2 separate regions of the Homo sapiens genome follow, and region 2 is linked to region 1. Evidence: fine-mapped expression QTL. Tissue or cell type: whole blood. Region 1 holds a variant in brackets; the other region holds the start of a gene. All regions are shown on one strand. Distances are between the middles of the regions.

Region 1 (16,213 bases):
GGCCAGCATGGTCTCGATCTCCTGACCTCGTGATCTGCCTGCCTTAGCCTCCCAAAGTGCTGGGATTACAGGCATGAGCCACCGCGCCCAGCCTAGAATGTATATGATTTTTTTAAGAGAAATGAAAAGGAAGCAGATTCTCATGCTTTGATAGAATGTCTTAGCTGGATGTGAAGAAAGGATTACTTCCACACTAAAAAATGAGGATCCTAGGTCCCCAGAGAGGTCACCGCAGAGCCACTGGGGAGACAACGTCCCGAGAAAAAGCTGCAGCAGAGTGTGCCTGGGCAGCTGGGGCTGCGGGCAGCCTGGGAAAGAGGCCCCTTGGCCTGATGTCCACATGGAAGCAGCAGGGACCCCTAGGACTCACGGGTCAGGCTCCCGGGACAACAGGCTCTCCAAGGTAACTCCTGTGCAGAGCTTGACACCGTGTGGGAGTTTGTAGCATATCTCGGAGGGGGCAGTGGGATACCTCGAAAAGATTGAATTCAAGCATCTTCCCAGTCTGCTGTGAAGGGGAGTTTGAAATAAAAATTCAGCTGGTTTAGAGAAAATGTGATATTTTGTGCATATCCAAGTTTCTGTATTGTGGATTGATACATAAATATATATATGCATATGTAAAGAGAGATAGCTGTTTATATATATTTATATAGATCTATCTATAGCTATACCTCTCTCTGCATATATATACATAACTCTAAATATATACGTGTGTGTATAGATAGATATACAGATATATGTGGAGAGAAACAGAGCCTATATCTAGGTAATCTAACCTTAACCTTTAACAAAATACTGATGTAGTTCTTTTTCTTTTTTCTTTTTTTCTTTTTCTTCAGAGGCAGGATCTGGCTCTGCCACCCAGGCTGGAGTGCAGTGGGGTGATCATAGCTCACTGTAGCCTCCACCTTCCTGGGCTCAAATAATCCTCTCACCTCAGCTACCAAGCAGCTGGGACTACAGGCATAAAACACCATGCCCATCTAATTTGATTTTTGTAGAGGTGGGGTCTCACTATGTTGCCCAGGCTGGTCTCAAACTCTGGAGCTCAAGCAATCCTCATGCCTTGGCCTCCCAAATTGCTGGGATTACAGACGTGCACCACCGTACCTGGTCTGTGAGGCAGCTCTTACTGCCATTTTCTGGGGTGAGGAAACAAGCCCAGGCAGATTTGGTTATTTACTTCTCGCCCCAAGGCCAGAGGAAGCAGAGCCAGGGTTTCAGCCAAGGTCACTTCCTTTGGGACAATCTTGCAAATGGAGGCCAGGCAAGGTGGCTCACACCACTAACACCAACATTTTGCGGGGGGTCTAGGCATCCAGATCACTTGAGTCTAGGAGTTTGAGACTAGCCTGGGCAACATGGTGAAAACCCGTGTCTACAAAAAATACAAAAAAATTAGCTGGGTATGTTGTTACACACTTGTAGTCCCAGCTACTTAGGAGGCTGAAGTGGGAGAATCACCTGAGCTGGGAGGTCCAGTCTGCAATGAGCCCTGATCACATCATTACATTCCAGCTGAGGCAAGAGTGAGAGCCTGACTTTAAAAAAAAATGAATAGTGCCCCACTTTCACTCCCCGAAGTGTTTGCATTTGGTTAACAAATTTTAACTTCATCCACATTTGATGACCACAGCGCTCTCCATCACTTCCTGCTGCCTCATTTTCGAAAGCAAAGAGAGTAGGAGGAACCCCTGGTGCTTGGGGCACATGCCCTGCAGGGTGCATGCCCTTTACAAAGTCATGGGAGCTGCGGCTCCAGGAGTCAGACATCGAGCAGCTTGGAGCATTTGGCTTCCTTCCTTTGCGTGCCTGGAGCATTCACAGAAAGCCTGCACAGCAAGCGAGAGAGTGCTGGGGAGGGTGGAAGCTGTTTGGATTAGGGTCCCCAGGGGTTTTGTGGTTCAAAGCAGGTGGAGCACATTTTGAGGGCCTGATGATGTATACCATTTAGGAAGCCATTTAAAAGACAAAGAATACAAAAGTATGAATACAAAATTTGGCAGTAAAGTGAATATTTAGAGACTAGAAGTCACAACAAACCAAAAGTTTCAAAAAGCTGGGGGGAGAAAAGCCACAAGATCACCAAATCCAGGAAAAATAAATCTCTACAATTTTTCCTGGATTTAAAAAATTTTATTTTCAATTGACAAAATTCTGTATATTGTTGGCAACATGTTGTTTTGAAATATGTGTATATTGTAGAATGGTTATTAAATTGAGCTAATTAACATATGCCTTACCTCACATACTTTTCATGTTTTTGTAGTTCAAACATTTAAAATCTACTCTTAGCAATTTTTAAGAATACAATTATGTTGGCTTTTTTTTTTTTTTTTTTTTTTTTTTTTTTTTTTTTTTTGAGACGCAGTCTTACTCTGTCACCCAGTCTGGAGTGTAATGGCCCGATCTCTGCTCAATACAACCTCCACTTCCCAAGTTCAAGCGATTCTCTTGCCTCGGCCTCCCAAGTAACTGGGATTACAGACACGTGCCATCATGCCTGGATAATTTTCGTATTTTTTTTTTTCAGTAGAGACCCAGTTTTGCCATGTTGGACAGGTTGGTCTCGAGCTCCTGACCTCAGGTGATCTGCCCGCATCAGCCTCCCAAAGTGCTGGGATTACAGGTGTGAGCCACCACGCCCAGCTCAATATATTGTTATTAACCAGAGTCACCATGTTTTACAATAGACCTCTTGAACTTATTTCTTCTATTTCACTGAAATTTTGCATCCGTTAACCAACATCTCCCCAGCCACCCAGCCTCTGGTAACCACCACTCTACTCTCTGTTTCCATGCAATCGACATTTTTAGATTTCACATTGTATAACAGTGAAACAGCAAAAGAACATAACTAACTCCATTATTGTTTAAGGGGCCTTCACCCATTCCAGCATATAGGCTAGGATAATTTTAGAGCACGAGATAAAACACAAAAACAGCCATCTGAGATTAAAGGAGAAGTATGTAAACTACATTTTGTTAAAGATTTATAGGAGTGGAGCACAGTGGCTCACACCTATACTCCCAGCACTTTGGGTGGGAGGATCACTTGAGTCCAGGAGTTCAAGACCAGTCTGGGCAACATAGTGAGACCCCATATTTACAAAAAAATGGAAAAATTAGCCACACATGGTGGCGTGTACCTATAGTCCCGGCCACTGGGACTGAGGCAGGAGGATGCTTGAGCCCAGGAACTTGAGGCTGCAGTGAGCCATGATCATGCCCCTGCATTCCAACCTGAGTGACAGACCAAGATCCTATTAACAATAAAAAATAAAAAATAAAAAGATTTATAGGAGCATTGTGACCTGACCAAAAGCTAAGACTTTCCCCACCTTCTAGGGCCCTTACTGGCACCCAGATGTCTGTGGTCAACAGTCACCTATTGATCCCATGCCCCTCCTCTTCCTTCTGCTCTTAACATAAAAAGAGACTGAAATTTATCCTGACTTAAGGTGGCACTTTAGGATGCTATTATCTTCTTGGTTTACTGGCTCTCTGAACAAACCTGGCTTTTGTCCCACCAACACTTTTTTTTTTCGAGATGGAGTTTAGCTCTTGTTGTTGCCCAGGCTGGAGTGCAATGGCAAGATCTGATCTCTTGGCTTGCTGCAACCTCCACCTCCCAGGTTCAAGCAATTCTTCTGCCTCAGCCCCCCAAGCATCTGGGATTACAGGCACGTGCAACCACGCCTGACTAATTTTGTATTTTTAGTAGAGACGGGGTTTCATCATGTTGGTCAGGCTGGTCTCGAACTCCTGACCTCAAGTGATCCACCTGCCTCAGCCTCCCAAAGTGCTGGGATTACAGGCGTGAGCCACCACACCCGGCCTGTCCCACCAACTCTTGTATCTCATGTTTGACTTTTGGTGAGTACCTGAACCTGGGTTTGGTTACAACACATAAATGAGATCATGCAGTATTTGTCTTTTTGTGCTTGGCTTATCTGACTTAGCATAATATCCTCCAGGTTCATCCATGTTGTCACAAATGACGGAATTTCCTTTTTTTAAGGATGAATAGCATTCCACTGTGTATATATGCCGTACATCCCACATTGTCTTTATCCACTCATCTGCTGCTGGACACTTAGGATGCTTCCATATCTTGGCTATTGTGAATAGTGCTGCAATGAACATGGGAGTGCAGATGTCTCTTCAACGTACTGATTTCACTTCCTTTGGATAGATACCCAGTAGTGGGATTACTGTAGCATGGCAGTTCTATTTTGAATTTTTCAAAGTATCCCCATACTGTTTTGCATAAGGGCTGTAGTCATTTATATTTCCAGCAATAGTATTGAAATATAAATAACTATACAAACTTATAAATATAAATCATCTCCACATCCTCTCCAACACTTGCTATCTTTCGTCTTTTTGATAATAGCCATTCTAACAGGTATGTGGTGATATATTATTGTGGTTTTACTTTGCATTTCTTTGATTAGTGATGTTGAACTTTTTTTTTTTCATATACCTATTGGCCATTTGTATGTCTTCTTTTGAGAAATGTCATTTCCTGTATCATCTGGCTATATTCTCTTTGCTGGCCCCAACATGTGACGACAATTTTGTAATATCATTTTCCATGGAGAGAAGAGAAAGATACTCAGTCTTTCCTCCGGCGCAGTTGATCAAGTTTGTTTTTTATGGTAAGACTTCACACATAGGTGTACTTGCTATTTATCGTATTGCTATAAGTTTGTGCCAAAGAGGCACAGGAGTTCTGATGAATTCTATTTTCTTTCACTATTCCCATCAGGAAAGAAAACTGATGAATGGTACATTTATAAATGTTTATGTTGCATTCACAAGCATATTCCTGGTGAAAAACTTACTTTTGATGAGACATTAATAAAAATCTGCTTCTCTGTTTACAGTATTAAGTCAGGTGATTGAAAGGTTATTTACCAAGAACTTCAACTAGACTTCTTAACAGCAACAAAAACTAGAATGCAGAGGACTAATTTATATTGTTTATGGATGTATATTTATGTAGAAGAAGTAAGAAAGCAGATGTGGGGATGATATACACTAATTTTTTTTTTTTTTTGAGATGGAGTCTCGCCCTGTTGCCCAGGCTGGAGTGCAGTGGCACAATCTCGGCTCACTGCAACCTCTGCCTCCCATGTTCAAACGATTCTCCTGCCTTAGCATCTCGAGTAGCTGGGATTAGACGCACTCGCCACCATGCCCAGCTAATTTTTTATTTTTAGTAGAGATGGAGTTTCACCATGTTGGCCATGCTGGTCTCGATCTCCTGACCTCAAGTGATCCACCTGCCTTGACCTCCTAAAGTGCTGGGATTACAGATGTGAGCCACTGTGCCCAGCCCATACACACGAATTTTGAATAGAGTTATATCCAGGGATGGAGGGAAAGAGAGGATGATGCACACTGGGTGAGGCAGTAGCTGGACTGTAATATTTTGTTTATTAAGTAAATAGCATGTTTACTGAAAAGATGGGTTTGAAGCAAATAAGATAAAATATTAACAGCTGTTTTATCTTGGTGGTATACCACACAATTTATCATTTTCTGTGTCTTTTGTATGCCTGAATTGTTTCACATTTTTAAAAACTGTTTTAAGATATATTTCCTTTTCCCGTTCATTATGTTTAAAGAATGCCAATCAGTTAAAGGACTGAAATTGAGAGTGAATTTCTGGTATTTCTGATCAAGGAGAGTAAATCATTGGATCAACTTCTCATAAACTTGGTGGAGATAAATGTAAAAAGAAAAAAATGACGCTGAACTTCTTTTCTGAAACTGAGCTAGCACTTCCGAAAAGAGCAAAATCACAGAACCCAGATCCATTAAGCTTGTTCTTTGGCTCATGCAATTACATACACGAGTTCTTACATCCAACATTCAGACCTCTGTATCTCCTGCTTTGCATTCAGGAACATTTATAGTCAATGAATATCTGAATACCTAATAGAATTACTAATGGTGATTTTGGAATTCCATTTTTCTAAGTTTTTTGTTTGTTTGTTTGTTTGTTTTAATACAAAGTTCCTTTGGTCAATGACTTAGCTGTGGTCTCGCCTAGATACAGGGAATGGACTTCTCCAAGTCCCCAAGTATCTCTTGTGAGTTCATCACACGGTTACATAACATATTTCCCTGGCTTATTGCCTTAATTGGCCTCCAGAATTTTCTAATTTGGGAAAGTGTTCCCAGAAAACAAGATAGAGGGATTGGGAAGAGTGACACAGGGAAGGAAGGAAGGCAAATGGGAGTGCAATCTCAGCTTGTTCACTCCTGGAGGCAGCTGAGGCATGACTGCGCAGGGGCTCCTAATGAGCCACGGAGTGACTTCAGAATGGACGGCCTGTGCGCCTGAAAGAGGGAGGGAACCTTTATTCATCAATTTCCAGCTCCGATTCTCCAAGGGGTGTTCTTGGGGCATGAATTCTCTTGTGCGTTGGGATGATGCTTGTGTGAGTGCTGGGCCGATTGTGGCAGGTGTTCCATGCTGTGGTGTCAAAATGCAAGAGATATGCTGCAGCAGAGGGGAGGTGCTGGGAGGTTTCATCTGCTCGAAGCTGCTTGCTCTAGCAATAGCTAGAGTAAGAGATGGACGAAGGGTATGAGCCAGGGCCTAAGTTTTGTGCCATCAGGTGATCCTGAGAAAATGGCAATCTCCTGGGTTGTGTGAAACGAAAACCTACTGCTCTGCCCTTCTTCAGTCACACAAGAGAAGACAAATCCGTGTGTTGTTCCTGTCACTCAGGGGGCAAAACCGCACATCAGGGTTGCTGACTTTTAGCACTGAAAATTATTATTTTTTATTATTATGTGTTTGAATCAAACAATATTATATGAAATAGGCCATGTCCTGGTTTTCGGAGAAAGCAGTAAATCCATTCCAGAGTCCCTCGGGAGTGTCCCAGTGCAATGCATTTGGAGAAAATGCTCTTCATGAAAGGCCATTAGGGTTATTACATCCTTAATAAAATAGGCAAAAAGAAGGCATTTTTCCCCTTTTACATTTTATGTTATAAGTGTGTGTTGGCCGGGCGTGGTGGCTCACGCCTGTAATCCCAGCACTTTGGGAGGCCGATGTGGGCGGATCACGAGGTCAGGAGATTGAGACCATCTTGTGAATGGTGAAACCCCGTCTCTACTAAAAATACAAAAAATTAGCTGGGTGTGGTGGCGGGCGCCTGTAGTCCCAGCTACTCGGGAGGCTGAGGCAGGAGAATGGCGTGAACCCGGGAGGCGCAGCTTGCAGTGAGCTGAGATTGCGCCACTGCACTCCAGCCTAGGTGACAGAGTGAGACTCCGTCTCAAAAAAAAAAAAAAAAAGTGTGTGTTATAAGGATAATGATGATGCAAGGGCTTCATTAGGACAAAATGTTGCCTAAACTGCATTTTTTTTTTTTTTTGAGACAGGGTCTCACTCCCATCACCCAGACAGGAGTGCCGTGGTGTGAACATGGCTCACTGCAGTCTTGACTTCCCTGGGCTCACTTAGGTGATTCTCTCACCTCAGCCTCCCAAGTAGCTGAGATTACAGGCGTGCACCACCACACCCAGCTAATTGTTCATAGTTTTGGTAGAAACTGGGTCTCACCATGTTGCCCATGCTAGCCTCAAACTCCTGACCTCAGGTGATCCACCCTCCTCGGCCTCCCAAAGCGCTGAGATTACAGGCGTGAGCCACCATGCCTGGCCAAAACTGCATTATTTATCTCGATTTTCAACTTTGGATTCTCTAAGTAGCCA[T/C]GATTCACCCTCACTGGATTTGGAGAAAGCAAAAAAATACGTGAAAATATTTTTTATCTTAGACTCTAAGATCATAATGAGAAGCTTATAACTAAGGCTGTCTTACAAACACCTGCGATAACCTGCTAGAAATGTCAATATCAATATACACGCCATGTCTGCACCTGTCTAGTTACAACTGTTGGCTGCACATCTGGGGAAACCGAGGAAGAATACACCCCAAAGTGCGGGGAGCCTGATGAGTTCACCAAACCCCAGGCTACCAGGAGGAAAGGAAATCCCTGGAGCCTTGAGTTAGGTGGTTTTTAAATAAAACAGTGGGCAGAATTATTTTGTGCTTCAATAGGAAATGTATGGGCATCCCCTCACCAAGAGGCTCTATGTCATCCTGCTGAATTGCTTGAAAAAAGAACCCAGGCAATCCACGCATGACAGAGTCATAATGTTTTGTGAGAGAAATGAAAAGGCGTTTGGGGTGTGTTGGGACTGACATCTGGAAGGGAATCACGTGCGGCTCCGTACTCTATTCCCGTGACTCCAAAATCAGAGACGGTTGGCAGAAACAGACCACTCACCGAAGCCAGGGGCGGTGCCAGGGGAAGACAGGAGGCTGATATTTGTTGCTGAACACCCATCATGCGCCACATAGTGAAGTGGAAAGTGGTTGCTCACTTCTAGGTTTGTCTGTCTCAAAGTGAGTGTCCCGCTGCTCCAAACCACGCAGGGTCCGGCTACCAGCTGCGCCCGCTGCTCTCCAGACATTGAACAGGGATCTCGGCAGTCTCCAGGCCTCAGGGTCAGCCTGGTCGTAAGGGTCTCGGACTCAACCCTGGCAGCCAGCTGGGATCGCTTCCAGGCAAGGGTCACAGGACATTACATACTGTCCAATTTTATCTGAGTCAGCGAAAGAGCTCATGTTGCTCAAGGAATTCTACAGGGATTTGCCCAGAGTGGAGTAGGCTAGAATGAAAAACTAGCACATCGAAGGAAGAAAAATAACTTCAGTGTTTCCAAATTGTGTTTCTGGATACCTGGGATCATGAGACTCTAGGAAAATCTGATCGGCTTTTTGTTGTGTTTCATCCCAAAGCAGCCGGCTGACTAAGAGGATGAGACCATTACCGTGAACCGCAGCAGCAGCAGCCAGGCCATTTTCTATCCTATGTTTTAACTGGCAAAGCGCTGCCATATACTTATGTCACAGAATGCTCAGAATAACTCTGTTGGCATGTTTTACTGACCCACCACACAGATGAGGAGAGATGGAGTGTACTAGTGACCTCCCCACAGTCAGAGCTTCTTTGTGGTAAGGCCGGCGTTACCACCTGGATCTGTTGACTGTGGCTCCAGGGGACATTCTGTGACACGGGAGAACCTGAGTTGAGACCGACTTCATCCAGGGTGCACTGGGAATCTGCCTGTGTATCCCACAGATGTTTCAGGCTTACCATGTTCTAAATTCAACCCCTGATCTCCCATCTTACACCAAGCCCACTCTACCTGCAGCCTTCCCCACCTCAGTTACAGCAATGCCATTCTTTTTTTTTTTTATGTGTTTTTGATAAATCTATTCTCCCCCAGCTTTATTGAGCTATAACTGACAAATACAATTATATAAATTTTAGGGGTACAATGATGATTTGATATGTTTATATATTGTGAAATGATTACCATAATCAAGTGAGTTAAGATGTCCCTTGCCTTCTGTGGTTATGTGAAAGGAAAATAAAATCTCTGGGACCTCAAACCCCCTATGGCAAAGGGAAAAGTTAAGTTTGGGAGCTGAGTCATGCAAAAAACAACAATGACAACAAAAAACAAAACCTGCTTTCCTTTTGTTCCTAGACTCACAGCTGCAGGATAGAAGGCCACATACCTCTCCAGGTGGCTTCCCTCACCCTGTGTATTAGTTCATTTTCATGCTGCTGATAAAGACACACCCGAGACTGGGCAATTTACAAAAGAAAGTGGTTTAATTGGACTTACAGTTCCACGTGGCTGGGGAAGCCTCACAATCATGGCGAAGGCAAGGAGGAACAAGTCACATCTTACATGGATGGCAGCAGGCAAAGAGAAAATTTGTGCAGGGGAAATCCTCTTTTTAAAACCATCAGATCTCGTGAGACTTATTCACTGTCAAGAGAATAGCATGGGAAAGTCTTGCCCCCATGATTCAATCACCTTCCACCAGGTCCCTCCCACAACGTGTGGGAATTCAAGATGAGATTAGGATGGGGACACAGCCAAACCAGATCACCCTGACAATGTAAGATAACTAACAGCTTATCTTCACGGGTGTGGAACAAAGACAAGACTAGAAATCATCCCTCTGCCCACCCCAAAACAAATGCATATTTGACTTCTTTCTCTACTCTATTTTTATCTTATGTAAAATGCAGATTTACTGAGCGTGACAAGAATGTGTAATTGACTGTTCCTCTATACCCTCCTCTCACATGTAACATGTGAATTCAGTAAGCACTAATGAAAGTTTCACAAGAATATAACCACTTATCTGGCTACCTACCCACTCTTTTCTTTCCTTTTTCCCCTCCTGCTGCTCTTTCCCCTTTAAATATTGAAGTCTTCAAAACCCTCTTTGGAAAATACATGGGCCACAGATTGTATGGGAACTTGTGTTTCTTTTTCCCAGTGCATCCTCAACCTTGGCAACATGAACCTCTAAATTGATCAAGGCCTGTCTCAGACACTTTTTGGTGTACAATTACCTTCTGTGTGTGTCTGTGTGTGGTGAGAACATTTAAGATCTGCTCTCTCTTAGCAAATCTCAAGTATATAATAATCAGTAACCATAGACACCATGCTGTACAGTAGATTTCCAGAACTTATCTTCTATCTGAAAGTTTGTACCATTTGACCAACCTCTCTCCATTTCTCTCACTCCCCAGCCCCTGGCAACCACACCTCTCATCTCTGCTTCTAAGTTTGACTTTTTTAGATTCCAAATGAGTGAGGTCACCCAGTATTTCTTTCTCTGACTCTTTATTTCACTGAACATACTGTGCTCTGGGCTCACCTATGTTGTGTCAAATGATAGGATTTTCTTCTTTTAAGGCTGAATATTATTCTGTTGTGTATATATACTCCATTTTCTGTATTCATCTGTTGACAGACAGGTTGATTCTACACCTTGGCTATTGTGAATAGTGCTGCCATGGACACGGGAGTGCAGATATTTCTTTGAGATACTGATGTTGTTTCCTGTGGATATATATCAGAAGTGGGATTGGTGGATCTCATGGTAGTTCTATTTGTAATTTTTGGAGGAAGCAGCTCCATATTGTTTTCCATAATGGGGTACTAGTTTATGTTTCCACTAACAGCTTAGAAGTGTTCACTTTTCTCCACATCCTTACCAACCCTTGTCATGGCTTGTCTTCTATAGTAGCCATCCTGACATGTATAAGGTGCTGTCTCATTGTGGTATTGATTTGCATTTCCTTGATGGTTCATGATGTTCCGCATCTTTTCATGTACTTGTGGGACATTTTGGTGTCTTCTTTGAAAAACGTCTTCAGGTCCTTAAGCCAACTTTGTTTTTTCAGTTACCCAAGTAAGCAAATAAACAAACAAACAAAATCCTTACAGTCATCGTTGTCTCTATTTTTCTCTCACACCCACATTCGATTTGTCATGAAATGCCATGAACTTGACCTTTAAAAATATCCAGAATTTGGCCACTTCTCACCACCCTCACAGCTGTCACCCTGGTCTGAATCACCGTTGACATTTGCATGGATTCTTGCAATGGCCTCCTAATTGGTCTCCCTGCTTCTTCCCTTTGTCCCCAATATAATAGCCAGAGTTATCTTTTTTTTTTAGACAGGGTCTTCCTCTGTCACCCAGGCTGGAGTGCAGTGGCACCATCTCTACTCACTGCAACTTCCACCTCCCCGGTCTCAAACGATCCTCCCACCTCAGCCTCTGGAGTAGCTGGAACCACAGGCAGGCACCAGCATGCCCAGCTATTTATTTTGTAGTTTTTGTAGAGGTAGGGTTTTGCCATGTTGCTAGGCTGGTCTCAAACTCCTGGACTCAAGGCATCTGCCCACCTTGGCCTCCCAAAGTGTTGGGATTACAGGTGTGAGCCACCGTACACAGCCCAAGGTGTTTTTGTTTTGTTTTGTTTTGTTTTGTTTTTGAGATGGAGTCTCACCTGTCGCCAGGCTGGAGTGCAGTGGCACAAACTTGGCTCACTGCAACCTCCACCCCCCAGGTTCAAGCGATTCTCCTGCCTCAGTCTCCTGAGTAGCTGGGACTACAGGTGCACGCCACCGCACTCAGCTAATTTCTGTAGTTTTAGTACAGATGGGTTTTCACCATGTTGGCCAGGATGGTCTCTATCTCTTGACCTTGTGATCTGCCTGCCTCGGCCTCCTGAAGTGCTGGGATTGCTTACAGGCGTGAGCCACTGCGCCCGTCCCAGAGTGATCTTTCAACAGGTGACTTAGATAATAAGTCTCTGCTCAGAACCCTGTACTAGCTCATTTCACTCAGTGTAAAAACTAAAGTTCTTACAACGATGACAAAGTCCTCTTTGTTTGTCCCACCCCATTGCTGTGATGACCTCCAGTAGGAGGAGTAGCTACTACGTGCTTCTAATCTACTCCAGCCACCCCGGCTTCCTTACCACTCCTCCGGCATCTCAGGCACGCTTACTCCAAGGTCTTTGCTCTAGATGTTCCATCTTCTTCAAATGCTCTTTCCTCATATTTTGCTTAGCCAACTCCCTCACCTCCTTCAAGTCTTCTCGGGGTTTGAAGAACTGAGAACTGTCTAACACCACATCCTGCTCCGTATCATTGCATTCCAACCCTGCACGCCCGATTCTTTTTTTCTACAACCCTTATTTCCTTCTATGTTACTATATACAGGTAACCGGTAAACTGCGCTATTATTCAAATACATACTCTGACCCTCTCAGGAGGATTATCCTTTCCCCACCCCATTGGCCTTGGACATGGCTACGTGACTGGGTCTGATTGCTGACATAGAAGCAAAAGCATTGTTACTTGTAGGCAGAAGTTACAGGAGCCAGCGTGTGGTTTACCATGTTCTTTATCCTGCCATAATGCCTTTTGCATCTGACTTCTTTCACTTAGCAGTAGTATTTTTGAGTTCACCCATTTTTGAGTTTATGACACCTTGTTCCTTTTCATTGCTGAATAGTATTCCAAAATGTGACTGAACTACAATGTGTTTATTCAGAGTTGCAGATAATGGCTACTCCATCAGGCTGGGTCCTAGAAAGATGACAATCTGTCACAGAGCTGTAGTTAACCAGTAATTGTCAGGTCTCATGGGTCAGAAATGAACTATTGTGCTAGAAGCCACTGAGATTCTGCAAACTAACCTAATTGATGCATATCTGTGTTTTCTGCTCATTGATGGATCAGAAGCATATAGAAAGAGTTTGGAGTGTAGCAGGTCTTTAATAAATATTTGTTAAATGAATAGATGCTGAGGAATGTGATTTAAGGAATGGCAGGAATATTCCAGTCTTGAAATATCCTTCCCTCTCTGCTTTCTGAAACTTGAAACTGTAGTATTATAAATGTACCCTTTTAGGTTAAGTATTATTACTCACTTTTAACATTATTAGAAGTATGCCATAATTGTTTTAATTAGTATTTTTAGTATAAATGATGTGTTAAACATGATTTGGGACAAAGAAAACACATGCTAGTAATTGGAAAGAGTGCTAAAAAATTATCTCTCTATTCGTCAAATGACTTACAGGTGAATAACTCCTGTTCTAGAAACTGAACCGTAAAAAAATTGGGCCCCCTTTTTAAAAATCATTACACAATTTATCTCTGATTCTCAAACTTCTGTTATCATTAACATTATTTTTTAAGTTTTATAATTTTTTTTTTTTTTTGAGGCAGAGTGTCGCTCTGTTGCCCAGGCTGGAGTGCAGTGGCGCCATCTCGGCTCTCTGCAACCTCCGCCTCCCAGGTTCAAGCCATTCTCCTGCCTCAGCCTCCCAAGTAGCTGGGATTACAGGCTAGCGCCACCATGCCTAGCTAATTTTTGTATTTTTTAGTAGAGAAGGGGTTTCACCATGTTGGCCAGGCTGGTCTCAAACTCCTGACCTCAGGTGATCGACCTGCCTCTCCTCCCAAAGTGCTGGGATTACAGGTGTGAGCCACCGTGCCCAGCCAAGTTTTATAATTTTAAAATAGCTTTATTGAGATACAATTTACATATAATAAAATTTGCTAATTTCAGGTATACAGTTCGATGGCCTAAAATAATTTTTTTTACACAGAGTCTTGCTGTGTGGCCCAGGCTGGAGTGCAGTGATGCGATCACAGCTCACTGCAACCTCTGCCTCCCGGGTTCAAGCGGTTCTTGCGCTTCCGTGACGTCACAAGGGCGCGCCTTCCGTGACGTCACAAGGGGCGCCTTCCGTGACGTCACAAGGGCGCGCCTTCCGTGACGTCACAAGGGCGCGCCTTCCGTGACGTCACAAGGGCGCGCCTTCGCCGACACCATAGCGGTGGGCCTTTGGCGACGTCAGAGGCGCGGGTGTTCGCCTACGTCACTGGGGCGCTACGGTGCCTGGAGCTGGGCGGTCTTCTCGTCAGAGTGGGGACTGGTGAGAGCGACCTCCCCGCCAGGTCCTGTGTGTTGCCGGCTGAAGAAGGGTAGCTGAAAAATTCAGACCCAGCACAGTGTTTATGTTGGTCAAAAATAGAAAACTATGGCGCGGCCGAGGCGGGAGGACCCTTCAGGCCAAGAGCAGCCTAGCAACATGGCGCAACCCCATCTCTGTAGTCCTACCTCAGCCCCCCAGCTACTTGAACCCAAAGATTCAAGGCTCCAGTGAGCTATGATCCCACCACAGCATTCCAGCCTGCGAGATTGAGGTAAACCCTGTGTAAAAAAATTAAAAAACTATCCAGGTGTGCAATAAAACATGAGGCTGGCTGGGCCCTACTGTAATCCCAGCACTTTGGGAGGCCGAGGCGGGAGGATGGATGGCTTGGGCTCAGGAGTTCGAGACCAGCCTGGGCAACATGACGAAACCCCGTCTCTACAGAAGATACAAAAATTAGCCGGGCGCGGTGTGCACCTGGCCTAATTTTTGTATTTTTTTTCTAGAGATGGGGTGGGGTGGGGGCTCGCTATGTTGCCCGGGCCAGTTTCGAACTCCTGAGTTGAGGCGATCTTCTCACCTTGGCCATCAGAGTTGTCGGGATTACAGGTGTGAGGGACAGCGCCCCACCTGGGTTAGGCTACTTAATAACATAAGAAAGTGCTCCGCCAGGCTCAGTGGCTGACACCTGTAATCCCAACACTTTGGGAGGCCGAGGCGGGTGGATCACCTGAGGTCAGGAGTTGGAGACCAGCCTGGCCATGGTGAAACCCAGTCTCTACAAAAAATACAAAAATTAGCCGGCCGTGGTGGCGCATGCCTGTAGTCCCAGCTACTTAGGAGGCTGATAAAGGAGAATTACTTGAACCCGGGAGGCGGAGGTTGCATTGGGCCGAGATCGCACCACTGCACCCCAGCCTGGGCGACACAGCGAGACTCCAAAGTTTGACACCAGCCTGGGCAATGTAGTGACACCCTGTCTCTACAAAACAAACAAACAAAAACCCAGGCATAACTGTGTCCACCTGTGGCCCTAGCTAGTTAGGAGGCTGAGGCAGGAGGATCACTTGAGGCCAGGAGCTCAAGGCTGCAGTGAGCTATGATAATCCCACTGCTTCCCATCCTGAGCAATAGAATGAAAGCATGTCTCTAGCTAGCTAGCTAGCTAGCTAGCTAGATAATTGATACGGAGTTTTGTATCAAATTTTTTCCCTAGATTTGAGCATGTTTTTCTAAAGTAGCATTCAATACATCAGCATTTTACAGTGTTATTATTTGTTAATATGATTATGTTTTTCTGAAATACAGTGTCCTTTACAAAAGCAGTTTTGTCTTTCAAAGGACATAGATAAGGCCCTCAAGTGAATTTGTTTGATGTTGGCGACCTTGGTACCATTTTGTCCACTTGATTGGAAAAGCCAGTCAATAATCTCAGGTCACTGTTGGCCTTAGAAGAAGAGCCCAAAGGCAACAAGCAAAGGCGCTGGTGTCCAGTCGCCTTCTAGAAGCATTTTCACTTTCCCTTAAGGTTTCCCTTGATGAACATAGAAGTACTGTATGTAGAATTGACCCAGTGCTGCCCTGGCAACTTTGTATATTAGCCCAAATTTACATTTCTTACCTTTATGAGAGGCACCCTGGTAGGCTAGTGGAGTTACACACAAAGTCTGATCTCAGCTGCACTGTCCAGAGATGCAACACGGTCCAATCAAATAACATTCTCTGAGCCCGTTTCTTTAGCTGTGAAAGAAGAATAACACCCATCTAAAAAGGCAGCTTATTGTATTTGATTGGTCTTTTATTTTCTATGAAACTGTGTTTAACACAGTAATTATTTTCATTTGTATA
Region 2 (17,180 bases), 150 kb before region 1:
CCGTGTTGGCCAGGCTGGTCTCAAACTCCTAACCTCAGGTGATCCACCCACCTTGGCCTCCCAAAGTGCTGGGATTACAGGAGTGAGCCACCATGCCCGGCCTAGGGCAGGATTTTAAGAGCACTTTTCATTCCTTTTCTAATGTTCTTGTTTAATCTTTTAGAATTTATAACATTCAAAGACTACATGTTAAATTGCACTATGAACATAATATTACGTGAAATAATGAGCTATTGAATTCAACAACTATCCCAAAGAAAAGTGACACACAAGGCTTTAGGGTTTGTTTGTTTGCAACTACTGATTTCAGAGTTACTAGGGTCAGAGAGGAAAAGCAGGAATTTGCAAGAACTGTGCCCTAAAACTAAAACTACAGAGTTGACATTTTAAAGTCATTTCAACGCTACATTTCAAAACATGCTAAGTGCTTTTCAAATACATAACAAACCAGCATAATTATATACTATAACAGATAAACACAGTTAATGTGAAGAAGAATAACACTCAGATGATTCAGGACAGATGAAATCCCATGGCTCTTCAACTGGAGCCATTGCAACTGAAGCCCCCATAATCCTTATTAAGAGCACTACTCCCCAGATGCAGTTATCTGCTCCTTACATTTAAGGAAACCAGATTAGACAGAAGGTTCCAGTTACCGTTTCCTATCCAACTGCTAATGGGACACAGCTTTATCTGTTTCTAACCAAGAGAGAGAACACACTCATTTCCTCTTCTCTCCTGAGAGGACAGTAAGGGTATTTCACAATGAATGCATCCTGATTTCTTTTCCCCAGCACCAACCAGGAACTGACTATAAACTTAACTATGACTACAGACACAAACAGGACCCCTGAGTCCTACAGATCACATGAACGTAAGTGCAAGTAGATAATATTTCTGCTAATGCACTATCCAAACATCAATCAGTACAATGAGCACTTAAAAGGTACCTGAGCTAATGGCTGCTAGCTAATTTCAGTCTGTCTTGTCCATTTTCTTTCTTCTTTTTTTTTTGAGATGGAGTTTTCGCTCTGGTTGCCCAGGCTGGAGTGCAATGGTGCAATCTCGGCTCACTGCAACCTCCGCCTCCCAGGTTCAAGCAATTCTCCTGCCTCAGCCTCCTGAGTAGCTGGGATTACAGGCATGCACCACCACACCTGGGTAATTTTGTATTTTTGGTAGAGACAGGGTTTCTCCATGTTGGTCAGGCTGGTCTCAAACCCTCGACCTCAGGTGATCCTTCCGCCTCAGCCTCCCAAAGTGCTGGGATTACAGGCGTGAGCCACCCTGCCTGGCCTGTATTGTCCATTTTCTTAGTAAGAGTTTCCCTACTTCCTATGTTCTAACTCTTAGGTCACCACTGGGCCTGTCTTCATCAAGATGTTTTTGAACAAAATGCAAGTATGTCTCAGTCTAGGAAGAATCACCACTTAAATACACACTATGAATTATTAATTTCTTCATTCTCCATCTGTCCTGGGAGATGTGAAAGAGAATTGCCCTGGTGACAGGGAGGGGGACCACTCCCTGCGAAGCGCCCAGCTGTCTCTGAGAGAATATGCAATGAACCATTCCTCCCGAGGCCGAGATATGAGATGCACTGCAGCTCCCAGCACAAGCTTTGATTAGGGCAGACATGCAGAAAAATAAAACCACAGTGAGATAAGAAATACATGTCTATCTACACTTGACTGGGCCTCAGCCTGGTTCAGAAGATTGCTGTCACTGTTTACTAGGGGACCAACAGGTAACACTACCAAGATATAAACAGCAGAATCAAAAAATCAGACAATGTCGGCTTTGTGAAAGGCAATTACAATTGTGAAAGAGATTACAAGTACTATGTAGAATACTTTTTTGTTTGAATCTCAAAGAAAATACTATCCTAAGACTCTAATAACTGAAAACATGCTAAAGTGGTTGGCGCCAGGAGTAAAAGATAATCTGATAAAGAATGTAAACATCTTAAGAAAGCAATGTCTGGAAGACCATTAAAGATATGTGGGTGTTGGCAAATCCAGGAGATTGGCTATATGCATTCTAAGGGATACACCTGGTATTTCTTTGGCATCAGTGGAGAGGACTGATGCACCTGTCACTTTCCACTGATAAAAGAAGTAAACCTAGCCAGGCTGGCAAAGAACATAGGTAAAATCACCAGCAAATACAATCTGTATATCCTTACTTGTAATTACTGTAAAGTAGGATTCTTGCAGATCAAGGGCTACAAGCAAAGCCTGTACTTCTAGATCGTGATTTCTCAACCTCAGCACTATTGACAGTTTGGACCTGATAATTCTCTTTTGGAAGGGGCTGTGTTGTGCCAGTTTAATAGCATCCCTGGCTTCTGCCTACCAGAGGCCAGCAGCACTCATCTCCACCCCCAATTGTGACAATAAAAAAAAATCAATAAAACAAGACAGTTTTCAAGTCAATAAAACGAGATCAATAAAACAAGAGTTTTCAGTGTTGAGGGGAGACTTGCTATCACTCTGACCACATTACATTGTAAGTGTTGCCGCCTCTTGATGGAAAATGAGCGTGACAGTGAGCTATTCTGCCACAGGAGTGCTGGTGGGGAGGACACAGCCTGAGACCGACAGTGCCATGATGGGACACATCTGATCCAGGTGTCAGGAATAGGTGTTATATCTATCAGAAGCAAGAGCTCAGATTCATATTTAGCTTTATTTTGTTTCAGGGCCTAAAAGCAATATTTGCCCTAAGGCCATCCCTTTAAGTATCCAGTGGGCTTTGATGAAGTTCCGCCATCATCAGGATTGCTTCAGCCAGTGCACAAGGGCATTTCTAGCTACCTTGTCTACTTTTGGACTCTGAGAAGAGTTATCATCAAGTAAAATGGTGAAAATCTTAGCACAAACTGGCAATGTGATCAGACCATAAGTCTTTAAACATCCCAGGAGAGAATATTATTACTCTCAGTATCTCAATAGTTTGAAAAAAACTTACTCTATACCTATTTCTGACAAAGAACATGAAAAAGTACCCCTACAATCTCCTAACACTGAAACATACCTTTGATTTAGATTATTCCAGGGATGACTATTTACTTGTAGAACACTCATTTCTTTTCTGGTTGCTAAATCCTGTCTTTTGCCAATTTTATCTCATCAGTAGTAGGAAAGAAAAATTGAGATTGTACTTTTAAGTTCTAGTAAAATAAAAGATCATAAAAGTTAAAGGCACTAAGAAGAGCCACATGAGGCCAGGCACAATGGCTCATGCCTGTAATCCCAGCACTTTGGGAGGCCAAGGCAGGTGGATCACTTGAGGCCAGGAGTTCGAGACCAGCCTGGGCAACATGGTGAAACCCTGCCTCTACTAAAAATAAAAAAATTAGCCGGGCGTGGTGGTGGCACCTGTAATCACAGCTACTCGGGAGGCTGAGGCAGGAGAATCGCTTGAACTCAGGAGGCAGAAGTTGCAGTGAGCCAAGATCACATCACTGCACTCCAGCCTGGGCAAAAGAATAAGACCCTGTCTCAAAAGAAAAAAAAAAAGTCGGGCACCGTGGCTCATGCCTGTAATCCCAGCACTTTGGGAGGCCAAGGCAGGCAGATCACCTGAGGTTGGGAGTTTGAGACCAGCCTGACCAATATGGAGAAACCCCGTCTCTACTAAAAATACAAAATTAGCCAGGTGTGTTGGCACGTGCCTGTAACCCAGCTACTCGGGAGGCTGAGGCAGGAGAATCGCTTAAACCTGGGAGGTGGAAGTTGCAGTGAGCTGAGATTAAAAAAAAAAAAAAAAGAAAAAGAAAAGCCACATGAATATATAAAACAAAAGATGAATATGTATAATTTGAATTTTATCAGCAAAAAACCCCTCATGTTTATGTGTGTATATTCCTATATAGTGCATATGGCAAACAATATTTAAAAATCCAGAAAATATTTGAGAAAAGCAAAAAAGAAATACAAGTTTTATAAGAAAACAGGAATACTTATTTGAGTTACACATATGTTTTCTTAAGACAGCCAGATGATATCACTGCTGGCTAATACACTGACCAAATTGTTGGCTAGTAAGACTAACACAGCCCTTCTACAATTGTGAGCCACTTTGCAGGATTTGGATAGATGTGCTAATCATATACAAGCAAAACATAGAAAGTCAACCTTATCTTTGGTTTTCTTGAACTACATCAATTCGTAAAGACAAGGCCCATCCCTGAGATTATATATTTTCTTCTCATATTCATCCTCTCACTTTCTGTGTACCTGGTTCAACTCCTTACTCTCATTTCCATAAGACAAAAACATAGCCCTTAATCATTCATCTGGTCCAAACAAGTGCTGATGGAAGGAACATTAATGATCAAAGGGTCAGAGAGTGGTGTCTAAAGGGGAATCAGGCTCTGGGTGTGTTTTGCTTGGCTTCCTTCTTGGAAGAAAAGAGGGAGGAAAAGAGGGAAAAAGAGAGAAGAAAAAAAAGGAAGCAAAGAGGGAGGGAGCAAGGAAGAAATTGAAATGTTTTTAGAAAAAGCAGAAACTGCCCAATTTGGCCATAAGCCTCATCATTTCCCTTAATGTCTTCCACTGACTCCATCATACCTTTTGATCATTTGCTTGGCACCTAAAGGCAATAATTCTCACATCCAGTCCAAACTTTTCGTTTTACAGTTGAGGAAACGGGAATCCAAGAACAGTGTGTTTCACTTGCCTAAGGTTACCCAGATGGTTGTCAGCAAAGCAAAAGTAAGTGCAGTGACCTGGCTCCCAGCTCCACATTCTCTCCTCTGACCCCACCACACTCTTCCCATAAATTCATCTAAAGGCTGAAACACCAAAATGTTGACAGAAAAAGGTAAAACCAGAATGCAAAATGTATATAGAAAATCATGAGTTCCTGTCATACAAGAAGTTTGTTTCATTTTTCCTTATACTCACCCAACCAAAGGTGGCTAGGAATGAGGTGAATAGGTGAGTCATGTATACAGGTGTTGTTGATAAAATTGTTATCTATTCCCAACGCTGCAGCAAGAGATGAGACATGATTCTGTTATTAAGGCTAAAATACTGCATTTCTAGCAATTTTTCTCCTTTCTGATATCCCCTTACACTCAAGTGTGCAGTACTTAAAATAGAGCCTGGATTGCCTATAATTGTGGCTTTTTTCACCCTTTCTTGGCTATGAAATAGTTCATTTCATACCTCTTGGCTTTATACAACGATGTATTGAATTTAGAGAAGGCGCATGTGCTATCTTGCCCACTTACAAATGTAGTTCTCGGCCATTCTGTGGTTGTTGAATTATAACTACCCATAGAGTAAATGAACACCTAACCTTACTGCCAAGAGACCTCCCAAATCACTTCCAGTTCTAGATTAAATTCTGTGGTTCCCAGGATACCCAGGACACATACACTTTTAACCACACTGGAAACTTTCAGACCATTTACTATGTAGGAATAATACAACAGATCTGTGGGGGCAACAAAGCCTTCCGGTTTTTCTGCCAGAACTCTCGTTTTGAAGAAGAATCATTAAATGTCTCCAATTTCTTGTAAAAGGGCATAGGCGACCCAAAGCAAGAGATATCTTTAGAGAAGTCAAACAGCAAATCCACTGAAAAGTGTAAGGGAATGGATGAAAGGTGAATGTGGAGCTGCTCCAAGATCATCAAGGTCAAAATGAGGCAAGGATCTCATTTTAAAAGCAAGAAAGTAAACGCTGACTCAGTTTTCACATTACAACTTCAAATTATTGATATACCATAATAGTACCAAAATTAAAGAAATGAGGAAAATATCTTTTTTTGTTTGTTTGTTTTGGAGATAGGATTTCACTCTTGTTACCCAGGCTGGAGTGCAGTGGCGCGATCTCAGCACACTGCAACCTCCGCCCACCGCAACCTGCGCCTCCCAGGCTCAAGCAATTCTCCTGCCTCAGCCTCCCGAGTAGCTGGGGTTACACGCGCCTGCCACCACGCCTGGCTCATTTTGTATTTTTAGTAGAGACAGGGTTTCTCCATATTGCTCAGGCTGTTCTCGAACTCCAGACGTCAGGTGATCTGCCCGCCTCGGCCTCCCAAAGTGCTGGGATTACAGGCGTGAGCCACCGCGCCCAACCTCATTTTAAAAACAAGAAAGTAAATGCTGACTCAGTTTTCACATTAGAACTTCAAATTTTGATATACCATAATAGTACCAACATTAAAGAAATAAGGAAATTTGTTTTTGTTTTTGTTTTTGTTGTTTTTTGAGACAGAGTCTCGCTCTGTCGCCCAGGCTGGAGTGCAGTGGCGCGATCTCGGCTCACTGCAAGCTCCACCTCCTGGGTTCATGCCATTCTCCTGCCTCAGCCTCCTGAGTAGCTGGGACTACAGGCGCCCGCCACCACGCCCGGCTAGTTTTTTGTATTTTTTTTTTTAGTACAGACGGGGTTTCACCGTGTTAGCCAGGCTGGTCTCCCATCTCCTGACCTCGTGATCCGCCCGCCCCAGCCTCCCAAAGTGCTGGGATTACAGGCGTGAGCCACCACGCCCGGCCCCAGGAAAAGATCTTTTTAAAATGGAAGTACGATCACGGAAAATAGGGAAAGCATTTTGCATTTTTATGCGGCCACTTCCTGGCTGAATATCAATGAAGGGATATTAGTAGTGACTACATGTGCAGTTATTTACAAGCTAGAGGAAAAACCGGTGAGGAAAGACCAAGACTGTTTATTAGGCTTCCATTAATCATAAACTACGCAAGGCATTTGGGGAAGTAATGGTGGGTAGACAAAACCAAACAAACCAACAAAACCAAAACAAAATAAGACATAGAACTTTAAACTGCATTTTATCTTACTACATAGTAATACAATTCTTAAATTATTAGGCACACTCAAAATAAGGAATTTCCACATAACTCCAGCATTGTTTATTAAGGAACAGAATACTTTACTTTAAAGGGAATTATCAGCCGGGCGCGGTGGCTCACGCCTATAACCCCAGACTTTGGGAGGCTGAAGTGGGCGGATCACTTAAGGTCAGGAGTTCTAGAGCAGCCTGACCAACATGGCGAAACCCAGTCTCTACTAAAAATACAAAAATTAGCCGGGCATGGTGGCGCGTGCCTGTAATCCCAGCTACTTGGGAGGCTGAGGCTGGAGAGTTGCTTGAATCCAGGAGGCAGAGGCTGCAGTGAGCCGAGATGGCACCACTGCATTTCAGCCTGGATGACAGAGTGAGACTCCATCTCTAAATAAATAAATTATACTACTCAAAAATAGCAATTTATATTTGTGAAGAACTTCTGACTGTACTTAAGTTCAGAGTTAATTCTGTTTTGTTTCCTTCCAGAAGCTGTTATATAAGCTAACATACAAAAATAAAAGTGCTACTAAATAAATGATATGTCCTGAAAAACCCATAAACATTTCAGGTTACATTTCCTGATTCACTGTTAAAATTATGAATACGTTTTTTTTTAAGTTGTTTAACTTTTTCTATCCTTCGTATTTGCTCTTGGTGAAATGTTTCCACTACCTTATATTGTTATCACACTAAATTTAAATTTTATTTCAAACTAATTTTAAAATGTATTATCCTTAAATGAAAACCCTTCATTCTGTAATTATTGAAAGCAGTACCACTAGTATTAAACATATTACTATAACATTAATTTAAAATGAACCCCTTTACTGCGTCAAAATGCCTAATGTTAAACAGCCTCCGACAATTATATAAAGACTTAAAATAAGGTCAAAGGAAGAGAAGCATCAGGAAAAACTTTCAATGAAAACAAAAAATTTTTGCCAATCTTAAAAATTACAATTACTCATATCATTGTGCACAGTATTTTTCTTGCTTCCAAATGAAAAGTTAGAAGTGCTTATTTTGTATCTAACAGCTCTTGAAACATCAGTAGGTTGAGGAAGGTGTTCATTAAAACCGATTTTTTTACTCCTGCAGTTTGAATACTGAGAATGTCGACAGTTTGTTAACACAATTGACAGATGTAACAATACATAGTAACCCTTATAAAATCTAGAGTCATGAGAAGATAAACTTTCTAATATTGAAAAACCTTCACTTTGCTTTAAGTAACAAGTATAAATAACAATTAACATTTAATGAGTGCTTGTCTAGTAAGCACTGATCTTTACCCTTACTTTCTATCATAGTAATCTATAATTATTTTTTTTTTTTGTCTTTCTCCCCAACTAATCCAGAAGCTCCATGGGGATAGGAACTTTGTCTTGTTCCTTACTGCATGCCTAGCACCTAGTATGCTTAACACATAGTAGGAGGCACTGACACATAGTAGGCATATTATGCAGAACAACACATGCTTCATAACTTAGTATTCTCAATGTCGCAAACAGTCATGACCTAGAGGCTTATGAAAATGCAACAGAATAGAAAGCAGAGTTTATTACATTTAGTAGAATAAAAATTCTTCAGTGAAACTTATAGTTTATATGTACACATATGTCCCATATAAAATTTATTTCTTACTATAGGTAAACATTTTAAGAAGTCTTAAAATCACTGCTTTATGGGGATTATTTCATTTGCTCCCCACAATAACCCTATGGACAATTCCATAACTTCCATTATAACAGAATCGAAATTTCTAGATGTTATATATGCTGTCCAAGTTGACAGCGCCATCTAAAAGTACAGACATTAAGTCCAACAGAGCTTAAAGGAAAATAAATACAGACATTATTTGTACAGATACTTGCTCATATGGTAATGTGGTAAGAAAATCTAAATTAATAAGGTTTTGATAATAGTAATTATGGCTTGATTAGTAAATACAAACATAGGCTTTGAAGGCAAGCCTGATAATACCTGGCTCTGCAACTAACCAGCTGTGTGGGCTCTGGCCTGTAATTCAACCTCTCTGAGCTTCGCTTTCCCCATGTGTAAAATATTCACACGATTGGTGTAAGCTGCAGATGATTTACTGTATGTAAATAGCCTAAATCAATTAAAAGGGGGCTCTTGTGATTAAAATAATTATTAGTGTTTCCCCCCACTGATCCCATAAATCACATTCAATCCACTGTGCCATAATTTAAATGTGTAAAAACTGTGAATCAGACTTTTATTGGATTAAATAGCAACGTATGGGAACTGAACAAAAATGGCATAGAGCTATCCAAGAGTTTCTGCTGTCGCCGGTTGAGAAAGATGCCAAGTTAAGATCAAGGAGTTGATTGAGGTAACTACGGGAATCTGAGGAAACATCGTTGCTTAACTGTAAAAACTAAATCAAACTATTTCATCCTCCTCAAGACCACAGCAACATCCATCTTGCTCCTCTGTAGCGTGGACGGGGCAGAACCCAGGTGTTAGGAAACGCACCTGGTCTGCTCCCGCCCACTAGGCCCTGGGCACCTCGGGGCTAGGGACAGAGGTTTGGAGCAACTCACCCCGGAGACTCCGTTGATACTGCCCCAGAATCTCCTCCAGGGTAGAGTTCTCCGGGGACTTCGCCATGCACGCACTCTAGGCCCAGAGCTGGGAGTTACGTGGGGAAATGTCCAGCTTTCTCCCTTCCGAGAACAACAGGCCTGTGGCCGGGGAGCGCCCGCCTGCTTCCTGCCGCGGCTGTCACAGGGGAGCCTAGAATCCCGCACAGAGCTCTTGGGGGCTCTTCCCACCCACTGGCCCTCGCTTTGCACGTCGGGAGTTGTAGTCCTCACGTTCAGAACCTGCAAGCTCGACAATCCTCAGGGCCTTCCAGTTACACTACAATTCCCAGAAACCACTGCGCTCCAGGCGCTAGCTTGGACGGTTTGGCTGCCAGAGCCTGCTGCCAAGAGACAGGCTTGCAGGCCCCGCCCTTTTCCTCCAGCCCAGCCTGGTTTAGTCCCGCCTCCATCCCACTCTTCAGCTGCCTGGACCACCCAAATGACAGAAAGGGCTCACTGAAGGCCTTGACGCTTCGAAATTTGCTAATATGCAGCAGTTGATCCCCAGGCTACTCAAGGACGCAGATAGTAAACTCTGAACCCTGCTTCAGTTGCGAGATTTTTTAAAACGGTCGAATAAATCTTCAAGAAATAGAAGCTCTAAATCTTCCAAACAGCCTAGATTGTAAAGGCGGCCGACACTACAACTCCTAGCATGCCCAGCAACCGGACCTTCACTTGGAGTTGGCGCTCTGCCCGCTGGGAACTGTAGTCCTTGTTGGTTGCGGTCCCACCTAACGCCGAGGTCCTCTTCATTGTTCAAGCTGGTCTTTCGGGGCACGCCTGCGCAGTGGGCAAGCTGGAAAAGCGTGTGGGTGAGACCCTCGCACAACCCCTTTTCATTGTCTGTGTGTGGCGCCTGCGCAGTAAGGGATCGTTGGAACTGGGCAGGAGGGGATAGGGTCCGGCTCCTCGCCCTTTCCCGAGGCGCCTGCGCACTAGGCAGTCGGTCTTTGCCGTTACCGCTATGTGTGGGGCGTGTGTGGAATAACGTTATTGCCCAGCGGAGCTGAGGGCCCCGGAGCTCGACCGCAGCGGCAGCGACGACAACAGCGGCGACGACGACGACGACGAGGTGGGGGGAGGACGGCGTGCGAGAGACTCACGGGACGCGACGCGCCCCGCCTCCCCCGTCCGGTCCCTCTCTCCACGGTAAGGGGTAAGTGATGCGATCGGCTGCTCGGTGTAGGCGCCGCAGCCGCAGCCACCGCCGCGGCTGCTTTCCACATCCTGCTCCTCGGGTTTGCGGCGAGGACTCGGGCGCCGCCCGCCGCGGGGCGGGGGTGCGGGGCTGGACCGCGAAGGGGGCGCTTCCCGGGTGCTCCGCGCGGCGCCGCCACCCCCACCCTCTGCCCGCCTGGGACCCGGGGCTTGACGGGACCACCCTTCCCATCCCCCACCCGCCGCCCCCCGGAGCTCCAGTCCTGCGGCCCCCCGGCTTTCCCGAGCCCCTTGCTGCCGCCTCCGCATCCCCTAAGTGCATTGAATCATTTTCAGCTTTCGACTGGCTTTGTGCAGCCCTCCCCCCTCCGCCGTAGCAGTTTGCGAGGGGTGCGGGCGGAGCATTGGAGGGAATGGCTGCGCTGCCGCTGGGGAAGGGATTTTTCCCCCATTGGAGCAGCTCCCCGGGCCAATCCCTTTTGTGTGATTGGTTTTGGGGTGTGAGGCGGTTGGCGAGGTCAGGCGAGCAACCTTTTGGACGCGTTGGGAGGGCGTGGAAGACGCGGTGTCATGCACCCTGCCTGGCGACTGCACCCCGTGGAGGCTCTGGCTCTGTAGTAAACCCGGGGGAGGAGAGAGTGGCTTCCTGTCGGCTTCATTGTCCTAGGATTCAGATGTAGGGTTTTGGTACGTTTCGCTTCCATTTTATGCAAGCGATGAAAAAATAACATTTGCAGCTGCCTAACACAGGGCGGGAAGACGTGGGATTTGTATACTAAGTCACAGAATCTCTGTTCGGTGGTGTTTCGTAGAGTTTTATTTATTTATTTATTTATTTATTTATTTATTTTGAGGAATGTAAGGAAGACAGGGACTATGCCTGCTGGAGTCCAAGCACTGCCAAGGTGATCAATATAAAATTACTAGGTGACGTTGGAGCCTGGGCTAGAGAGGGCCTGACAACGAAGCTGTTGTGTCAGGGAAATGAACAAGCAGAATTGTTTTTTCATTGGGCAGGTAATGCATTTATGTTCCTGAGGGAATGGATACATCTTTCCGTTTATTTTTTAAGCAAGTAAAACAAACAAAACAACTGGCCCAGTACATTTCTGTTACCGAAGTTGTTAACTCATTTTTATTCTCTTAATGAAAATTCAGCCATTTGGGAGGAATTTGGCGAAGCAGATGATACATTTGATTGAAAATGCATATTTTAAAATGATTTAATCCTTAAGCTTACAATGTATGCAGCCGTTTGCTGGCGTTGCTTCTTAAAACACACCAGAAGAGAGAATAAAGCAGGATGGGGAGGAGCAGGTGGAGGAATAATGGGAGAGGAGAGAGTGACATTATGACTATAGTATCTGGATCTTCACTGGTATAACCCTAACTGGGTATGCTTCAGAGACTTAGGAATTCAGCTCTGGAAACAGTACACTGATGAATAGCAACTTATGTATTTTTCTGTTATTATTTTTTAAAAAGTAAAACTAGGGCTGCCTTTAGCTCTTCCTAACTTTGTAGATAACACGGAAGAGCCCAAGTGCACTTGACAGAGGAAGACACTAAAACTCAGAAAGTTAACTGACTTGTCTGCCCAAGCCAGACAGTTAATCGAAGGCAGAGCCAAACGAAACTCAAGGTCCATTCTGCAGAGTGATCTTTCCTGTGTCCCCCTAGCCCTTTTACCTTGTGAAAATGTATGGAAAGCTTCTCTATGTGCTCCCTGAGTAGGCTGTGACTATCACTGAACTTGATTCTCACCGTGATTAATCTAGTTCTTGCCTTTGTGATGTAAAAGTAGTAATCCTCCTAAAATGGACCTTTACTTTCATAAAGTAACTTACTACATGAGGAAAGATGTCCTAACATGTGCTTTTCATAAAAACGAAGTGTTGCAGTGTTTTCCCTACTACCTAATGGTAGCTACTTAACGGTAGGTTTTAATATTATTTCTTGAAAATCAATAGTATTTTATAATAGTATGATGATCAACTCTATAGGCTGTGTTAAAAATAAAATTTCCGCATAACAAGAACCTATGATGTTTATTTTGCCACAGTTAATGAGTTGTAATCATTAATGAGTTATTAGTGATTACTTTTAACTTAAACTAGAATTTACATTTTAAGATATATTAACTTTATGTTTTTTATTGGGTTGATTTTGCCATAAAGTGCTTTTTTCTTCCCTTATAATTTTAATCGTTTAATTTTACGTTGCATTTTAATAGACTTCTTTAAAGGATTTATTATTTATCTTAAATTTCAACTTTAAAAATCTGTAACTAAATTTCAGTATGTGGGATTATATTCAATCATGCTTTAAATGTATTTTACTGGTAAATTTCATTGTGTTCTGAGATTATTTTGTATGGAAATAATCTGCCTGTTCCCTATTTTAACATTAGAATAGTGAAATTTATACTGTAAACCTTAGCATACATTCTGCATATTAATGCTGTTATGGTACTTTTTAAAATTCTGTGCTTCGTGATTTATTTGATTTGTTCCAAGTATCAGTTTCTTGTTCCTTTTTATCTACTGAAAAAAAGAACTAGTTTTATTATTGTATCTGATTGCAATTAGATAATGCTCATCTAGTACTAAATATTGTATATGCTTAAGCTTTTTTGTCAAAATGTTTTTTATTCCACAAAATTGTATTCCTGAAAAATATTTTTTCTATACTAATTAATAGGTAAAGACTTTTCTTTCTTATCTGTCCCAAACACTGGGATGTTAAGCAGTGTACTCTTCAACTAAGTATCTGACAGACAACCTGATATTTAATTGCTAACTAAAGTATCTGTACAGTTGCAAATTATTCTGGAAGTATAACAAAAGAGCAGTTACGTGCCATTTGAAGAATGCTTGGTGAGTAGATAGTATTGACTGGAGCATTCAGTGTTGATCTGTTTCATTAAGAAATGGGATACTTTTGATGGGAAGAAATATCTTTATTTCATTAATAACCAAAATTTCTAATCAGATACCCTAGGTTTTTATTTACTTACTCAAAAATTTCATAAAGGAGTGTTCAGCAGTGAGTTAGCCATTGTGAGAGATAAAAAACATCTGTCTGGTAGTGTGGTTGATTAAACTGGATATATTGTCCAGTTTAGCAGAAATGTTTTAGCCAAAGCCAGTGACATAGCCAATGTGTGTTGCTGTTAAAGCCCACTTTTATATCAAATAAAGGTGGAAAAACAAAACAGCAAAAGCAAAGTTAAAGAAAACCTCATAAAATCTACTTACATACAAACAGGAATTGCAGAAAGTATAGAAGTGGAAAAGAATCCCAAGCATGCATTGTTGAGGTCTGAAAAACAAATGACACATAGCAGAGAACAAGTCATTTTTTAAGTATATCCATAAGTAATAAATGATATAGAAAATATTACCCTTTGAAACACAATATTTATTGAATCGTTGAATAATACCTACCAAATTTTGAACATTTCCTAGGTGCCAGGAAGTTTATGTGTGTGTGGTGTGTGTGTATTTAATTTCTGCAACAAACTTCTAAATTAAGGTATTATTTTTACACATTGAAAAAATTTGAAGCATAGAGTTAGTGAATAACTTTGCCTCTGCGTTACACATTCCTAAGTGATAGGGCCTATAATTGAACCTTTGTCTTTTTGGCTAAAGCCAAAATTCTTTCTACTCATCTTTTTTAGTAAGTTAAAGGGTACCACTTATTTCCTTACTCTGGTTCATAAAATTTTAGAATTCAAGGGAACTTTAGAAGTCAGCTCATACAATGTATCACCCACTACTAATATCTCTGAGATGTTATTGGGTCCAACTTCTCCACAAACCCTTCCCTGGGCATAGGAAAGCCTGTTTAGCTTCCAAAAAGTGTAATAGGAAGATCTCACTTAAATTGAGCTAGTAGCTGCTTTTACTATATAACTTCTTCCCACTGGTTGCAATTCAGTCTTTAGGAGTAAGATGAAGTAAGGTTTTTCTCAATATATTAGCTAGATTTTCTCTTGTCTAAATGTTAGGACACCTCCAACTTCATATGGTTTCCTTTGCCATCCCTCACATCTCTCAGCTGGATTCAATCAGTTTTGTCAGTGCTATTCTTTGTGTTCTGATCTTGTTTCCATATTTAATTCTGCAGTTATGGTCTGAATGCAAAGTGCAGTGAAATTGTCCCTTTCCTTATTTCAAGCCATACACTTGTGTTTAAAGTCTAAAATTGTATCAACTCTTTAACAACAGTCATCTCTGCTAATTCAAAGCAAAAAGCAGAGAGAGAGAGAGAAATGTTACATGGCTTTTCAAGTTATATTTATGTAATTCAAGGTACTATTTTTTGAGATTTTGTTCTCCTTTTCTAATGTTCATAAATGGCCTTTATTAAATGATAGTGTTAGTAACACCTATTAAGTAATGATAGGTTAAGTTTCTTTTGATGTTGGTCATGGGGTTTTGTTTTATTTTAGTGTTCCTGATTAACCAATAAAAAGTTGGCAGCCTTATGTTGATTCTTAATTTGTTTTCTGAAAAATTGGTCTGGAAACCACTGATGTAGTCAACATAAACCAACATTTTTACACTTAGCTAGATTTCTCCCATTGTGTATAAACACACAGGTGATGTTTTTAAACCAGTATTTTACCATTGCCTCCTATTAAATTTCATCTCCGTGAACGTAGCTATAGTTAAAACTTGAGATCTTCTTGAATCATGATTCTGTCATCCAAGGGATTAGCTTTCCTTCCTGGCTTTTTGACATTTATAAATTCAACAAGCCAAACTCTTATGTCTCCATCCTGGCCATATACTTAATATAGCCAAGGACAAAGCCATGCACATTTATAAATAGAATGAATGTTACATAAATAAAAGATGCTGGGAGGAAAGGTGACACAAAAATAATGAAAACCATTCGGATGGGTTTTTTTTGTTTGTTTGTTTTTGGGGCCTTTTTGTTTGTTTTTGTTTTTGTTTTTTTGAGACGGAGTCTTGCTCTCTCGCCAGGCTGGAGTGCAGTGGCTCAGTCTCGGCTTACTACAACGTCTGCCTCCTGGATTCAAGCTATTCCCCTGCCTCGGCCTCCCGAGTAGCCGGGACTACAGGCACGCCCGGCTAATTTTTTGTATTTTAGTAAAGACAGGGTTTCACCATGTTGGCCAGGATGATCTTGATCTCCTGACCTCATGGTCCACTGCCTAGGCCTCTGAAAGTGCTGGGATTACAGGTGTGAGCCATGGCGCCTGGCCTTGTTTTGTTTTTTAAATTAAAGAGAAAACCATTATATCCTCCAGCAGTAAAGGAATTAGATGAAGTTTACAATATACTGGAGGATATGGATAATTCTTTTACGATGTAAAGTCAAGTAAGGATAGATGCTATGAAGAAAAATTAATCAAGGTAAAGAGACAGTGGTAGAGGACTGCTGTTTTACATTTGTTTTCAAGTGTTCATTCAGGTAGTTTTCAAATAATATTTTGAAAAGAAATAATATGAAAAACCTTTTCACCCTACATCTTATCTGCTGAGTTACCACTTTTGCCAATCCAGTAAGTAGCTATTTTTATTATTTCTTATGTATTCTTCAATGAACTTTATTTATTTATTTATTTATTTATTTATTTATTTATTTTGAGACAGAGTCTTGTTCTGTCGCCCAGGATGGGGTACAGGGGCAGGATCCCAGCTCATTGCAGCCTTGACCCGCTGGGCTTAAGCAATACTCCCACCTCAGCCTGTTGAGTAGCTGGGACTACAAGTGTGCGCCACCATGCCCAGCTAATTTTTTGTAGAGATGAGGTCTCACTATGTTGCCAAGGCTGGTCTTGAATTCCTGAGCTTAAGTGATCCTCTTTCCTCAGCCTCCCAAAGTTCTAGTATTACAGGCATGAACCACCACGCCTGGCCATGAATTTTTCTTCACCTCAAGCAAATATAAATACATATTTTGTGTCCCCTCTATGACACAAAAAAATAGCCTCTTTATCCACTATGCTACACCTTGAGAACTATCTTAGAGTGGTTAGGGAATCCCTCTTTCTGAGGTGACATTTAGCAGAGAACTTGCATTAGGTAAGGAAGCATCTTGTAGGTATCTGAGTGGAGAGTATTCTACTCAGGTGCGGTGGTTCTGAGGCAGGAATGGGATAAGTGAATTTGGAGAACACTGTGGCTGAAGGTGAGTGAGGAAAAGGTGCTTATAGGAGGAAATGAGGTTGCATAGAGATTTTATTCATTGATTTTAAGTGCTATGAGCATTCATTGGAGGATTTTGAGCAAAGCCAAAAAATTGGGTTATATTTTTAAAGAATGGCTCTGGGAATTCTTTAAAACACTGGGAACCATGAGATAAGCTAGGAAATGATTGGAATGATCTGGTTTAAGAGACATTAATGGCTTAGACTAGAGCGACAGTAGTGGCAATAGTGAAAGTTACTAGTTTCTGGCTTTAGAGAGTCAAATGTTTTGGATATGTTAAGTTTGAAGTGTCTGTTAAACGCCCAAGTGGACACATCAGGTAGGCAGTTAGATATGTAAGTCAAGCATTCAGAGGAGAGGTTTGGACTGAGGATAGTTAAATGTTAAGCATCACCAGTAG

The links. PIP is the estimated chance that this variant, and not a neighbour inherited with it, causes the effect. A credible set is the group of variants that fine-mapping cannot tell apart.
Region 2: it holds the start of SDCCAG8, and the variant in region 1 is the best candidate, but not a certain one, in a credible set for the expression of SDCCAG8 in whole blood (TOPMed, PIP 0.55).

Annotation. Positions count from the first base shown.
Region 1 is chr1:243,099,809-243,116,021 of GRCh38, reverse strand. LINC01347 (long intergenic non-protein coding RNA 1347) reads left to right here and starts at 14,278. Exons shown (of 18, transcript NR_029401.1): 1 at 14,278-14,636. RefSeq lists an enhancer at 1,478-2,229. The variant T/C (reference allele first, on the strand shown) is at 7,744.
Region 2 is chr1:243,248,453-243,265,632 of GRCh38, reverse strand. It overlaps SDCCAG8 (SHH signaling and ciliogenesis regulator SDCCAG8), which reads right to left and starts at 9,592. Exons shown (of 18, transcript NM_006642.5): 1 at 9,393-9,592. The coding sequence starts at 9,459. It overlaps CEP170 (centrosomal protein 170), which reads left to right and starts at 10,352. Exons shown (of 20, transcript NM_014812.3): 1 at 10,352-10,593.